Linked DNA regions of Homo sapiens. The protein of the gene in region 2 purifies or fractionates together with the protein of the main gene of each other region. This does not show direct contact. Each region holds a gene or a part of one and is shown on either strand. Other genes may lie near its edges.

Region 1 (7,414 bases), on a different chromosome or scaffold from region 2:
CGTAAAAAAGTTAGAGTTGGCCAGGCGTGGTGACTCATGCCTGTAATCCCAGCACTTTGGGAAGCCAAGGCGGGTAGATCACTGAGGTCAGGAATTCGAAACCAGCCTGGCCAACATGGCCAAACCCCGTCTCTACCAAAAATACAAAAATTATCTGGGTGTGGTGGCACGTGCCTGTAATCCCAGCTACTTGGGAGGCTGAGGCAGGAGAATCGCTTAAACCTGGGAGACGGAAGTTGCAGTGAGCCACGATTGCACCACTGCACTCTAACCTGAGTAACAGAGCAAGACTCTGTCTCAAAAAAAAAAAAAAAAAAAGTTAGAGTTCCTAATACCTCCCAGTTACTGCTGCGGAGTGTGTGTTAAGGGGCTACAACCATTTCCCCCTTGGCCTAAACATCTTCATCAATTCGAATGGGGGCCATACGCCACAGTGCTGTCCTGTAACTCTATCAGCAGTGCTCCTGCTGTGGGAAGATCTCCTGAGTCTTCTGGGAAGTGCTGAAGGCACCAGGGGTGCCAGAGAGCCAGGAGGGCAAAATGCTGCTTCACCCCTGTGCCCAGGAGCCCCAGAGACCTGAGACTGCTGACTTCTCCATGCCTGACTTTTCCTTTCTAAAATGTGGGGACTGTGGGGGAGGGCCAGGTGCAGTGGCTTACACCTGTAAACCCAGCACTTTGGGAGGCCAAAGCGGGAGGATCACTTGAGCCCAGGAGTTTGAGACCAGCAACATAGTGCGACCCTGTCTCTACAAAAAGGAAAAATAAAAAAATTAGCTGGGCGTGTGGCACTCGCCTGTAGTCCCAACTACTTGGGAGGCTGAGGAGGGAGGACTGCTTGAGCCGAGTGGGTCAAGGCTACAGTGAGTTGCGTTTGCACCATTGCATTCCAGCCTGGGTGACAGTGTGAGACTCTGTCTGAAAACAAAAACAAAAATAAAAAAACCAGCTGGGGGCAACCTTCCTCCCCACTGGGATATTTAGAGGAAACAGGGAATGTAAAAAGACACTGCCCAGGAAAAAGCATCTCTATGGTCTACAGAATGACTGCTATGCTGAAGTTAGGCTATCTTCAGATGACTCTTCCTCCCAGTGTGACCTGCAGTGTTACCTTCAAATAAAAACATGGCAAGAAACACCCTTGATATACAATAGGGCCATGGATGGAAATATCTGGATACGGTAGAAATAGAAGAACCTTGTATTTTCTCACATAAAGGGGGTCACAGGACAAGCTGGAAAAGAAGCCAGACTTTGAGGTGGAAGACTCCCACTGGAATTGCTGGATCATTTAACTAAATACCCAACCTTGGCTATGCGCCCCAAGCTCTCTAAATCTGTTTCCTAACCTGGAAAGCAGTGCTGATAAGGCACGCATCTCACAGTGGGGCTGTGAGTAGGAAATGATGTAATTCAGTTGGAAGCGCTTTTTTCAAATGCTTTATTCAAATGCAAAGCACATCTGCCGCTAAGTCCAAAATGCCCCCTCCGGTTCTCTCAGCCCCTCCACTCCTATATTCTTCTTCCCCAGTCTGTTTCTCATCCGGAGACGCCTTTCCACCTATCAAGATGGGCTGATCTTCAAATTGCGACTGATTGTCCAGCAGATGTAACTATATTCACCAAACTATCTCTCACAATTGGACTGTGGGGGTGGTTGGTAACCGCATTTAATCCTGGGCTGACAATGGGACTGGATCCCTGGTTACACGGCCCTACGCGGTGGCCCTGCGGTAAACGGCCTCTCAGCCCAAACCCACCCTGGTTACTGAGCATGCCCAGAACTCCCTCCCGGGCCACCAAAGGAGGGGCACCATTTCTGCAGGATTTTGCCACTGTGGAAAGAGAGGCGGAGCTGTCATCGCGCAGAGGCAGGGACTGATACGCGGAAAGGACGTGGAGATGGGAATAAGCAATGAAGGACCAGCATTGACCGTGTTAGGCACACAAATCTAATTGCCCCCTGGTTACTTACCAACCCGGTGGCCGTGGCTCAGCTACTGCACACACACACCAAGTTCCTACACACCTTTCCCCTGCTTGGCCCCACACAATTCATGGCACTCACAGCCCACATCCTACCTCCTACTCCGCACCAGATGCGCACCCGCACTTACTCCCCAAACACGTGGCATCTGGTAACCCGGGAAACGCTGCGACTGTGGCGCAGTGCGCAACAGGGGCGGGGGAACCAGGCGGGGCTCTGGGGCGCAGGGGAAAGCTGGAGATTTGGGAAGGGGGTTTCAGTTTGTTTTTTCTCTCTTTTTTTTTTTTTTTTTTTTTTTTTGGTGGAGGAAGCAGAATAAACCAAATCGCGACACGTTCCTGCGCCCTTCTTGGCGCAGTGGCGCAGACACGGTCCATGGCGCCTTGCGCAATAGAGTCGGTCTGCACCCCGTCTTTAAGTCGTGGCCCTGGGCTGGAATTCCCGACTGCACTCTTTGCTACACCCCCATAGACCGCAGACCTGCGTCTCTCTCTATATTCCTCTCCCATCTGCTACGCCCCTCTGAATTTCTTCCCGCCATGTTGTGTGCCCCCCCCCCACTCCCCCGTCACCCCAACCACACCAAAGTGGATGCACGAAGCGGGAACCTTCTCGTTTCAGTCTCTGCTCCCTGCAGCCTGCCAAGGCGAGTGGACAAACTGAAGCTGGGGTGTCCAGCGTCTTGGCTGCCCCCCTCCTGTCCACCCTGCCTGTGCTATCCTTGCTCATCTTCAGTGCCATCCCGCTTCCCACACCCTGAGTAGCCTGGCGCCCGGCTTGTCCCCTTTTCCCATCCATCAGCTCACACCCAGGGTAACGGGGCGGGACCCCTATCCACAGTGCGCCCTCGCCCCCGGCCCACCTCCGCCATGCGGCGGGGCAGAGGCGCCTGGGCCAGGCAGGTGGAGGAGAGGGGCACTGGGGCTGGGGGCTGCGTCCTCCGGTCCTCACTCCGCGTGCCCTGCCCGATACTTACCCAGGCGCGGAGAGCGGTCAGCGGGCCCTCCGCTCCGCATCCATTAGCTGGTGGTCTGGCCGCTTCACTTCCGGAGCGCGGGGCTAGGGGCGGTGCCGCCCTCCCCTCTCTCTCTCCTTCCCTCCCCTCCAGCCCTCCCCTGAGCACCGCTCCCCTCCCCGGCGCCGCGCCCCGCCCGCGCCTCCCTCCTCCCAGCGCTGCCGGGAACTGGCAGCCTTTCGGCTCCCGCAGCCGCAGCGGACGCCCTCCCAGATCCAACTTTGCCGCTTCCCCGAGCTCGCGCTGTAGCCGCGGGGGGCGTGGGCAGGGAGGGGAGAAGCGGGGTCAGGGGGAGGGACCGGGAGGGTGGGTCGCCGGCTCGCCAGCCCTCCTTCCTTTCTGTGCACCTTGCGGTGGGCGGCGAACGGCAGCCGCGGCAGCAGCTAGGGGGCTTGTGCACACAGCGAGGGAGACTTAGGGACTGGCAGACGGACGGACGGACGGCGAGGACCCTACCCGAGCCCCCGAGCCATGGCCGAGAGAAAGCAATCCGGGAAGGCGGCAGAGGACGAAGAGGTCCCTGCTTTTTTTAAAAACCTGGGCTCCGGCAGCCCCAAGCCCCGGCAGAAATTCTGTGGCATGTTCTGCCCGGTGGAAGGGTCCTCGGAGAACAAGACCATCGACTTCGACTCGCTGTCGGTGGGCCGGGGCTCGGGGCAGGTGGTGGCTCAGCAGCGGGACGTCGCCCACTTGGGCCCGGACCCGCAGCCGCCGTACTCGCGGCAGGGCCGGCGCGCCGGCGGAGAGCCATCTGTTGAATCGGGCCGGAAGGTGGAGATCCGGAGGGCCTCGGGCAAAGAAGCCCTGCAGAACATCAACGACCAGGTCGGTGTGGGGGTTGGGGGTGGAGACGGAGGACGGGGCGCGGGGATCGCCCCTCCCTCGCCCCTGAGCCCGGCGCGCCCGCCTTCATGCCCCGCCCTGGACCTCGCCTCCCGCATCTGCACGCGCACCCCGCCCTACCCGCCCCTTCTCCGCGCAGGGTGCGGCGAGGCTCGGGCTGGGCGGTGGGCGGCCGTGCGCCCACAAAGGCTGCCCGCGTCTCCTTGAGCTTGAGAGGTGGGGCGTGGGCATAGGGAATGGGCTGATCCCCTGCTGGGGCGGGCGGTGGTCGTCTGGGAGGGGGTTGGCCGCGGTTCCATTCTTCTGAAACCCTCCCGGGCGGCTTCCGATTGCAGCTGCGGCTGGGTGCCCCACCCTTTTTTTGAGCGGCTCAGAGCGTGCGGTGGAGGCTTTGCGTGAAGGCCCGCGGCTCCCCGGTGGTCGGGAGGGGCGGGGGTTCGGACGGCCGCTCCCTACAGCCTCCGCCCGCGCCTTCTGCGCTCACGTCCCGAGCTCCGAGGCCAGGACCATGGTCAGCGCCCCCCGGACCCCCTCCGAGCACCGCACCGCCCTTGACTCCTGCTCGCAGCGTGAGAAGAGCCAGGAAGGCTGTGGAGTCACCCGAGGAAACCGAGACGCTCCTAAATAGCCTATGTGGGGAACAAAGTTCCAATAAGTGTCTCAGCCGGGGCTTCACAGAGCGCTCCCCAAACCGCTATGTGGGAGGCGCTTTAGGAAGCGGGGAACTAAGTGGATTATGTTCAAAGGGTCAAAAAGACAAGAAAAGGGGGAAAACCCCTCGCACTCGAAATAGACTGTCGAAGAAGACTAAACCCCCTTTTATTGTGTTAATGGGGGAAACAAAGGCCAATTTGGTCACGCTTGATTTTAGAAAATGTTTGTCACTTTCTGACAAATATGAACAGTGAGCATTTTCAGCGCAGTAATAATCTCACACCACAATTCTTTCTTTATCTGAGTGATCCTTACACTAGTGTAATTCTTTTCCACAGCCTTAATTTCTTAACTGATAATTTACAATGCAAAATGTTTTAACACGTTTTCCGTTTCTCTCCCATGCCTGCTGGTAAAAATAATAAGTCAATCAATGAATGATTGTTGATTGAATACCTATTGTGCGCCTTGCCTTGTAGGGCAGAGGGAAGGTTAGTTATAGAAAGTGCAAGAGGTTTCTTCTTCTCAGAGGGCTTCCAGAGTAGTTGGGAGTGGTCTATACATATTCAGCGAGGGATTCCACAAGCATTTACATTTGTGTACTTACAGTGACAGCCTTTGAGAACAATTCAGAATTGGTGATGATGGTTGGGGCATGATTTGACTGTTTGCTGATGTGACATAGAGTTTTGCAGCTTTTGACTTTTGTAGGGTCAAGTCTAGGAAAAACAAGGCATTTGCTGTCATTTGTAAAAGGTGACACAACTAATAATTTATATCCAACCCCAGCCCTGCCCTCTAATTTATTCATATAAGGGAGTGTCTCATATCCATATTTCACTATGAGTCAACCAGAAGAAACTAAATCCAAAAAACTTGCTTTGTTCCAAGTGATCAGACAATTGAAGTAAAAGTTTCTAATAATGTAACTTATACTGAAAGCTGAGTGAGTGTGTGTGAAACACTTCCCTGTGTGAGTACATTGAGTGAGGGCCAAAATCATATAGCATCTTGGTTGAGTGAGTAGCCTCATGCATGGCGAGTTGTGCTGGTGATTGTGATGTCCTAGAGAAAGCAGAAAAACAACTGGAGAATAAAGAAGAAATCATGTAAAAAGTGGCAGATCAGAGGATAGGGGTTGAAAGTGGCCCACCCCTATCATGAATTAGAACTCAAGTTTGAAAGGCATAGTTTTATCGGGTTGAATAACACTTCTTTTTTCTTGGCCATTTAGAAGCTTAGATATATGAAATTCTAAATTGTAAAACTAAGGCACGCAGAGGGGGAGATTTGAAGAGAAAATACTCAAACAAACTGCAAGGGAGTTTTAGATTGCAATTCACATTGATTTCAGTTGCCCAGTTATTAGTAACAGAGGGCGATTCTAGCTTGGCCTTTCTGCAGCACCTTCCCCTGAATTTTCATGTTTAATCTTGCCTTATCATATAAGGCCTACTCAATGAGATTTTGTCATTCACGACTAAGAGCATTTACCTGGATCAGTACTTGCAATGTTTCAATATTTCATGTCTTTAGAAAAGGGGAAAGGCTGTGGCTATACATGTGTTTATATTTATAACAATGTGACTTCCGAAAAGCTCAACTGGCCCACCATTTTGACTGAGTTGACTTGTCATTAGTTGGTTTTCAACGAATGAGTTGGGTGAGTGCCAGCATCTCTGTGCATTCTAATTGGAAGCCCTGACGCAGAGAAAGGTGGGGGAGATTGAGAATGGGTGGATCCTGGGACCCTGACTCACACCATCCCTCCTCTCTTGCAGCTTTATTTATGTGTTACTAATGTATGGTCAGATGTGGCTTTGCTCATCTGTTGCACTAAGAGGCCTGCTGTTCCCCTAACAAGGCTTTGGGAAGGGAGAGAATAGGCTTCCTTGACCCACATGCCACATGGCTCATGGAAGATGAGAGATGTTGGACATGTGCATTTGCAGGAACTAAATGAAATTATATTCAGAGTATGAGCCAGACAGCACCAGAAAGCGATGGGTGTGGCTTGACTCGGCATGTCAGATTTTGGCGGAGGAAAAGAGCTGGCATAGTGGTTGTGAATGAGGAAAGCCTCTATCTTGTTACTCTCTTTTTCCTATAAGTCCACTTTGGGCTTCAGTGAGGTTACATTGATCACCACTGTGAAAGACTCTGAGCCTCTTGGAAGAGAGAGAAGAAAGGCATCTCTGTTGGCCCAATCCCCCCTTGTCAGTGCCCAGGGGTCCTTCAGCCTCTTCCCTTCCTCCTAGGAACTTCCTCCATTCCACTCCAGACACAGCGTAGCCAGAACCAGTGGCTCCACCAGCAATACTGGACCATAAGAATGCTTTTCAAAGGGGCCTCTAGGCCCTTTTCCCAGCAGCAAACAACCTATGCAGGCTGGAGTGACAGGGAGTGATTCTCCTCCTCTCCAGGGCAGGTGCCGCTGAATGAACTGCACAGTGCTGCTGAGCTTGGCAATGTTACTGAGTCTGTGAAGTGCTTTCTGGTGCTCCCTTCCATCTGGGTCCCCATCCCTTCTGCCTGTGTTGAATCTCTTCTGGCCCTGGGAGCCCAGTGCTGTGCTGCCCTCTAACTGTACAACGTCATCCCTACTCCATCCCCATAGCATGCCCCTTCTAGACCTTTCTTCTTCCAAAGGGCAACAGGTTCTAAAATCAGTCTTGGCTTCCCTTCTCCCATTCAGAATTCTTAACTTGCATTAATCTTAGTTAAAGAGAAATTCCAATGATTAAAGCCATCTGCTCCTCAGGCAAACAACTGATGCCCAAGTTGTCCCCAGAGATCCGTGTCTGATAATAGACTAGCCTGTTAAACAAAACGAATGTGTGGTTAGTGGGGTGTGTGGTGGAGATTTGGAATAAAGGCAATACCTTGATACTTTACAGGTCATATTGGTTCAAAAC
Region 2 (7,179 bases):
TGGGGGCCGGGGGTGGGAGCTAAAATTGGCCTGCACCACCAGCTGGCCTGGCTCCCTCCCGCCCGGCTGGCGCCCCAACACCCGGGACTGTTGCTAGGGAACCTGGGGAGGCTGGCCCCCTGGTGGGGGGCCCTGGAACTTGGGGTGGGGGAGCATGACCCCACGTGGCTGTAGCCATGGTAACCAGGTAACAGGAGAGGGGGCTGCAACCTCCCATTCCAGAGGCAGGCAAGTGACTCCCCACCAGGACTGACAGGCAGGTCTTAGTGACAAGAGTTGGAGGAGAGAAAAGGGGATTAGCCATCCTCAAATCCGCACCATGCACGCATCTTAACAACCCAGGGAACAGCAAGTCTTCATTAGGCGTTCCACTTAACAGACAAGGAAACCAAGGCTCAGAGAGGTAAGGTTACTTGCCCGAGGTCACACAGCTAGGGAGGGACAGAAACAGGATGTGAACCCAAGTTTATCTGAACAATTAAAGTAGTGCTAATAACCACAACAGCCACGACACATGCCAGGCCCTGTGCACCTTAGTCACATCACGTCGCTGGCTCCTGCAAACATCCCTAACAGTGGGGGGCCATCATCAACCCGATTTAGAGATAAGGAAACTGAGGCTGCAAGCTGGGAGTGAATCTGCAGGCTCACTCAACAACCAATAACAGCCCTGAGCTGAGAATCCACGGGCTGTCTGACTCATACCCACAGCCACAATAGCAGCTGGCATTTGTGGAGTGCTTCCTAGGTGCCAGCCTTCGCCTGAATCGAGTAAGCCTTGGAGGCACTCAAGCGGTCACCCCTATTTTCCAGGGCAGGAAACTGAGGCTCAGAAAGGGAGAACTGGTTGTCTGAGGACACAAGGCAAACCAGCTGGCCATGTCAGCATTGGAACCCAGGACTGTGGAGCCCCTGGCACCTCACTGTAGATTGTAGTGACCAAGGAACAGAGGTGGTAGGCATTTCATTAGACTCCAAATTGGAGTTCTGGCCCATAGTGATGATGCGGGGTGGTCTCTGTGAGGGAGGGATCTGCAAGATGAGGAAGGGACAGATATAAATCTCTCTGATGGTGTGTGTGTGTGGGGGGGTCTGTCGGAGGTGAGGGAAACAGGGGGAAGGGGAACAGGGACCTGGCAGAAGGATTTGGAGAAAGCCACAAAGATCCCAGGTGGGGAGAAGTCTAGGATTGGGTGGTGGGCAGGTCTTTGGAAGTGATCAGTGATCAGAGACACAGGAGATGGGGAGGGGCCTCTCTGGGAAGCAGTGTAGGGGCAGGGGGCGCCTGGGAATGGTGGAAAGTGACAAAGCCATGGGGGCAGTGGAAGTCAGAGGCCAGGAATCCCTGGGTCTTGGGGAAGCTCCTAGGAATCAGAGAAGGGGGCTTCTAGGAGAAGTCCTTGAAACCAGAGAAGGGTCTGGGGGGCCTGGAAGTATGGGGTAGGAACTTCTTGGGCAAGGAGCAGCCCAGATGAATAAAGGCTGAGCCCTGGGGAAGGTCAAGGGGTCTAGAAATTTGGGGAGAAAGCTTCCAGCAGATTGACCCAAGGGAAAAGGGCTTGAAACCAGGGCAAGACGAGAGGCTTCAGGTCCAGGAGTTTTCTGGAAGAAGGATCTGGGGCCAGGCCCTGTAGCTGAGGAAGGCCTCTGAAGCTGAGGAGGGGGCTTCCTTGGAAGGCCAGACTCCCAGCAAGGAAGGGGGAGGCCCTGGGGCAGGAGAAAGGACGGTGGTTTGTGGGGAAGGGGTCTGAGTTTGGCCTAGCAGGGGGTCCAGAGGTTGGGGGTTGGGGAAGGGGCTGCCTGAAGCTGAGAAGTTGATAGAGGGCGGATGAGGCCTGGAGTCAGACTGGTCCAGGGCCTAGAAATACCAGCCTGGGTGAGGTGAGGGCCTAGAAGTTGGAGGCCAAGGCTTCCTGGGAGAGGAAGAGACCAGAAAGGGTCCAGGTGGCATCTGGGGGCCCCGGGGTGCTGGGATCTAGGGACAGGGCTGCTTGGAAGATGGGGACCAGGCCTGGGACGGGAGAGACCTTGAAGAAGCCAGAAAAGGGCCGGGGCCCAGGAGAGGTGGAAACCAGCTTCCTGCCAGGGGCTGCCCACAGGCGCCCTGGGTGCGTCCTGGAGGGGCAGAGGGCTGGGAATAAGAGGAGGGGGGCTCCTGGGGAGCCGGCACCCAGCCCCAGACAGGGAAGGCCGGAGCCAGAGGCAGGACTGGGCCAGGCCCTGCTGAGAGTGCCAGGGCCGGGCCTTGGGGGGTCAGGGGCCCTGCAAATCCGGGAGGGGGCGAGGTGTCGGACGCGGACGGCCTGGAGGGGAAACGGCTTAGCACAGGCAAGAGAAGGGAGGGGCTCCTGGAAGCAGGGGAAGGGGCTTCCTGGAGGGAACAGACCCGAGCGGAAGCGGTCTGCACGGGGACAAGAGAGGGGTCCCGAGAGAGGGGCGCCCCCAGGGGTCGGGCTGGGCTGGAAAAGGTGGGGAGGGTGGAGAGGCCTGGAAGTCCGGGAGGGGTCGAGAGGTGACGAGCCGGGTCGGGCCCAGGAAACGAGGGTAGGGGCTCGCGGGGCGAGGGGTACAACGGGGAGAAGGGTTTGGCGGCTGGACCCAGCCAGGGCTCCCCAAGGGGCCGGGCCCCACTCACCGTGTCCGAGTTCCGATCGTTGCCCGGGGCCAGCACCGTCCGCGAAGACATCTTCTCCGGGTCCCGGGGGGCAGGGGCGGCCGGGTGGGGGGGGCGGGGGTCCCAGGGTCCCCTCTCTTCCCCTCCCCCCCCGCCGGCCTGGGGACGCGAGCTCAAAAGCTGGGCGCCGAGAACGCCCGGGTCCGCGCGGCGGGAGAGGGGGCAGGGCGGGGGAGGGGAAGGGACGCCGAGGGTCCTAGTGGCCCCGTGCAGCGGGGACCCCGGGCGCCATGGGGGCGGCGGGCAGGCGGGCGGGCGGGGGCCGCGGAGGGGGCGCGGAGCCGGCCCAAGCGGCGGCGGAGGGAGGCGGTGGAGGGGCTGGGGAGGGAGGAAGGGACGTCAGGGGGAGGGGCGGGCAGGGCGGGGCGCCGGGACCCCGCCCCCCGCCGCCGGCCCTTAAAGGCGCAGGCCCGGGCTGGTCGGGGCGCCGGGGGCTCCGGGGGCTCCGGGGGCGGAGGCGGGTCTGGGCACGCCGGCGGGGAGCGTGTTCTCGCCCGAGACGAGAGGCGCACTGGAGAGGAGAGAAGGGGAGAGAGAGGCCGGGGCAGAGCGCCAGAGACGCAGAGAGAGAGATCGAGAGACGTAGAGATAGAGAGACACGAAGAGAGAGAGACGAGTTACAAAAGGGTGGAGAGGCGCAAGGAGATGAAGGAAGAGCCAGATGACAGAGAGAGAGAGACGCAGGGAGACAGAGACAGAGAGACCCAGAGACGCAGAGGGACAAAGACTGAGAGAGACCCCACACACACACAGGGAGAGACAAAGAGATACAGAGACGCAGAGATCTGTGAAGAGATAGAGATAAAGGGACTGAGCCAGAGAAGACCCCAGAGGCGCTGCCCACATTGTCCCTCCCCCTGGCCCATTCTCTCCCCAGTTGGCGGGGGGGAGCGGGGGAAGCTCTCCCCTCGGAGGCCTAAGGGTGGGGTGGGTGAAGGGGATGGTGTGCGGGGCTTGGCCACTGCTGAGGGCTCAGTGACCTCCCTAGTCAGGCTGCCTCCACTCAGCCACATAGATCCAGACCCGCAGGTTGGGGCTGCAGCATCCACTCCTTTGCACCCCAGCTGGGGTGTGGGGACCCTCTCTGTCCACCTGTATGACCCGGGGCAAGCACTTGCCCTTTCTGGGCTTCACTTTCCCAGTTTGTAAAGTGAAAGGAAGAATCCGTGTGTTGCTCACTGGCAGGTGCGAAGGAACCCTGTGCAGGTATTCGCCTGCAGGGCACAGCCACTCCCCATGCGGGCAGGCTGAGACCAGAGAGGACAAGAGCCTCTCGGAGGCCACACAGCGCTGTGGGGACCATCCATGCTCTGTGGACCAGGGTGGGATGAAAGAAAGACAGGCATTACATAGTCTTGGCCTGGGAGTCACATGGTTTTGGGAAGGGGTCTGTGCCCTGCCTTCTTCTATCTGAGGCTTATTTTCCTGAGCCTCAGTTTCCCCTTCTAAAACAGCAGTGTGCTGGATCTGGCTGGAGCGAGCTGATTGTTATGTCTCAGGAATTTTGGAACTGGTTGTTAAACACAGCCATTATTAAAAATTAAATTATGCAAACATACAATTAAATTACATTAAAGGTACAAGTAATACATACTCATCACGTCCTAGTTATCTTACTACATTTGCCATTATCTGTGATCTTGAGGTTACCTACGTCTATTGTAGCTGCACAGTAAAATTACTATATAATGGGGGGCAAAAATGCCATGTGATATCACCTTGGTAGCTTGAAATTAGCCATGGTGGGAATATTTACACCATGGAAATTGGCAAATGCTACAAATTAAGGCTCCACACCCCCACCTGCAGAGAGCTGGGGGTGTTTTGTTTTGCTTTGCTTTGTTTTGTTTTTGAGACAGGGTCTCACTGCATTACCCAGGCTAGAGTGCAGTGGCACGATTATGGCTCACCGCAGCCTGGACATCCCCGGCTCAAGCAATCCTCCCAGCTCAGCCCCACCAAGTCACTGGGACTACAGGTGTGCACCACCACGCCCAGCTAATTTTTTGTAGCCATATTGCCCAGGCTGATCTCCAACTCTCAGGCTCAGGCGATCCTCCCACTTCGGCCTCCTAAAGTGCTGGGACTACCCTGCACTCAGCCAAAAGCTGGTTGTGAAAGCACAGCACTGCTTGATACTATGAGCAACACAGACTCATGGCAGTTGCCCTTGTGCCAGGCTCTGAGCAGTTTCTCCTTTCTGCCACCCCAAGAGGTAGGGAGCATCTTTATCAATCCCATTTGCAGATGAGGAAACAGAGGCCCAAGGAAGGGAGAAACGTCACACGCTGAAGGTCACACGGCAAATTAGTGGCAGGGCTACAATTTGAATCCAAGTGCTCCCAAGTTCCAGAACTTGGACCCTCTCTCAACCACTGTGGTTTCCTGTCTCCGAAAAATAATAGCAGCAACCTCAGGCTGCTACTATTTTTATTTGTCAATTTGTTTATATTTATTTGTTATTTTAATGTTACTGCTAACAAATAAATGAGAATCTTTGAGTAAAGTGCTTCACAGGGGACCAGATTCAAAATTCATATGTGGGGACATTATTATTACTATTTGGCAAATATGGCCCGAGGAGCCTCAGGGACAGTGGCAGAGAGGGTGGAGTTCCGGGGTAGTGTTCTAGACGTACTGTGATCCCAGGGACGCCGCAGGGTGAAAGTGGGGGTCTTGGGGGTAGGCTAGAGGGGCTGAGCGCCCCCAACCCGTTCCCTGCATTGGCGCTGAGAGCTGCAGTTCTACCGTGCACCACACGGGGGCAGCCGATCACCTCCCTACACGCGCCCCACACACTCCAGGGTCCACCCCTGCCCTCCCTTCCCCAACAGCGTCCCCACCCCATTTCCCAGATGTGGGGGGACCGAGGCTTACAGAGAGGGAGGCTGCAAAGTGGATGAACCTTGAAAACAGCATGTGGCCGGGCGCGGTGGCTCACGCCTGTAATCCCAGCACTTTGGGAGGCCGAGGCGGGCGGATCACGAGGTCAGGAGATCGAGACCACGGTGAAACCCCGTCTCTACTAAAAATACAAAAAATTAGCCGGGCGCGGTGGCGGGCGCCTGTAGTCCCAGCTACTCAGGAGGCTGAGGCAGGAGAATGGCGTGAACCCGGGAAGCGGAGCTGGCAGTGAGCTGAGATCGCGCCACTGCACTCCAGCCTGGGCGGCAGAGTGAGAATCCGTCTCAAAAAAGAAAAAAAGAAAACAGCATGTTTAGCGAAAGAAGTCAGACGCAAAAGACCACTTACTGTATGCTTCCATTCATATGAAATATTCAGAATTGGCAAATCCATAGACAGAAAGTAGATTAATGGTTGCCAGGGGTTGGAGGCTGGGGAATGAGAAATGACTGCTGATGGGTACCAGGTTTCTTTTTGGGGTGATGAGAATGTTCTGGAATTAAATAGTGGTGACGCTTGCTGCAACCTTGTGAATATACTAAAACCTACCGGACTCTGTTTGAAAAGGGTGACTCTTATGTATGTGAATTGTATTTCAATAAAAAATAATAATAAAATTTAAAAAGGGGGCTGGACGCGGTGACTCACACCTGTAATCCCCGTACTTTGGGAGGCCAGAACGGGAGGATCACTTGAGCCCAGGAGTTCGAGACCAGCCTGGGCAACATAGTGAGACCCTGTCTCTAAATCAAAATAAAAAAAATAATTTTTAAAAAGGAGGGGGACGGGCACGGTGGCTCACGCCTGTAATCCCAGCCCTTTGGGAGGCCGAGGCGGGCAGATCACGAGGTCAGGAGATCGAGATCATCCTGGCTAACACAGTGAAAACCTGTCTCTACTAAAAAAAATACAAAAAATTAGCCGGGCGCTTGCAGGTGGCAAGCGCCTGCGTCCCAGCTACTCGGGAGGCTGAGGCAGAAGAATTGCTTGAACCCAGGAGGCGGAGGTTGCAGTGAGCAGAGATCACGCCACTGCACTCCAGCCTGGCGACAGAGCAAGACTCCGTCTCTAAATAAATAAATAAATAAATAAATAAATAAGGCGGGGTGGAAATCCTGCACGATCCCAGTACATGATGGGCCACTGCTGACCATGGGTCCGCGGTGCAGAGGCCGAGCTGGGGGGCAAGGCCTGTTCCTCTGCCTCCCGACCTGGTCATCCAGCTAGCCCTTCCTCCACAACCTATGTCTGGTGAATTCATTCCTTCAACTGGGGCATTCAGACCTTTGAATCTTAACCCTTGGATCCAGGAGGGAGCTGTGATCCCTAAGCCCAGCCCCCGATCCTAATGTTGACCCCAACCCTGATCCCAGCCTGGACTTTGCCTAGGCCAGTGATCACGCATCCCCCTCAGGCTGTGCCTGAGCACTTGAACACAGTTTATCTTATTTATTTATTTGTTTGTTTGTTTATTTGAGATGGAGTCTCACTCTGTCTCACAGGCCGGAGAGTGCAGTGGCACAATCTCGGCTCACCGCAACCTCTGCCTCCTGGGTTCAATCGATTTCTTCCGTCTCAGCCTCCCGAGTAGCTGGGATTAC

Evidence for each region. Proteins that work in one complex are often made in the same cells at the same time.
Region 1: the proteins of MARK4 (region 2) and PNMA2 purify together in Homo sapiens (co-immunoprecipitation; 3 studies listed by BioGRID and IntAct, with this or other methods). This does not show direct contact.

The regions. Positions count from the first base shown.
Region 1 is NC_000008.11:26,510,853-26,518,266, forward strand, and holds the start of PNMA2 (paraneoplastic antigen Ma2), read right to left. Parts: upstream 3,021-7,414; 5' UTR 2,964-3,020; exon of another isoform or gene 1,976-2,963; intron 1-1,975. Other genes in the region: DPYSL2 (dihydropyrimidinase-related protein 2), read left to right, coding at 3,474-3,827.
Region 2 is NC_000019.10:45,247,096-45,254,274, reverse strand, and holds the start of MARK4 (MAP/microtubule affinity-regulating kinase 4), read right to left. Parts: upstream 3,005-7,179; 5' UTR 2,687-3,004; coding exon 2,636-2,686; intron 1-2,635. UniProt on the Homo sapiens protein: Serine/threonine-protein kinase. Phosphorylates the microtubule-associated protein MAPT/TAU. Also phosphorylates the microtubule-associated proteins MAP2 and MAP4.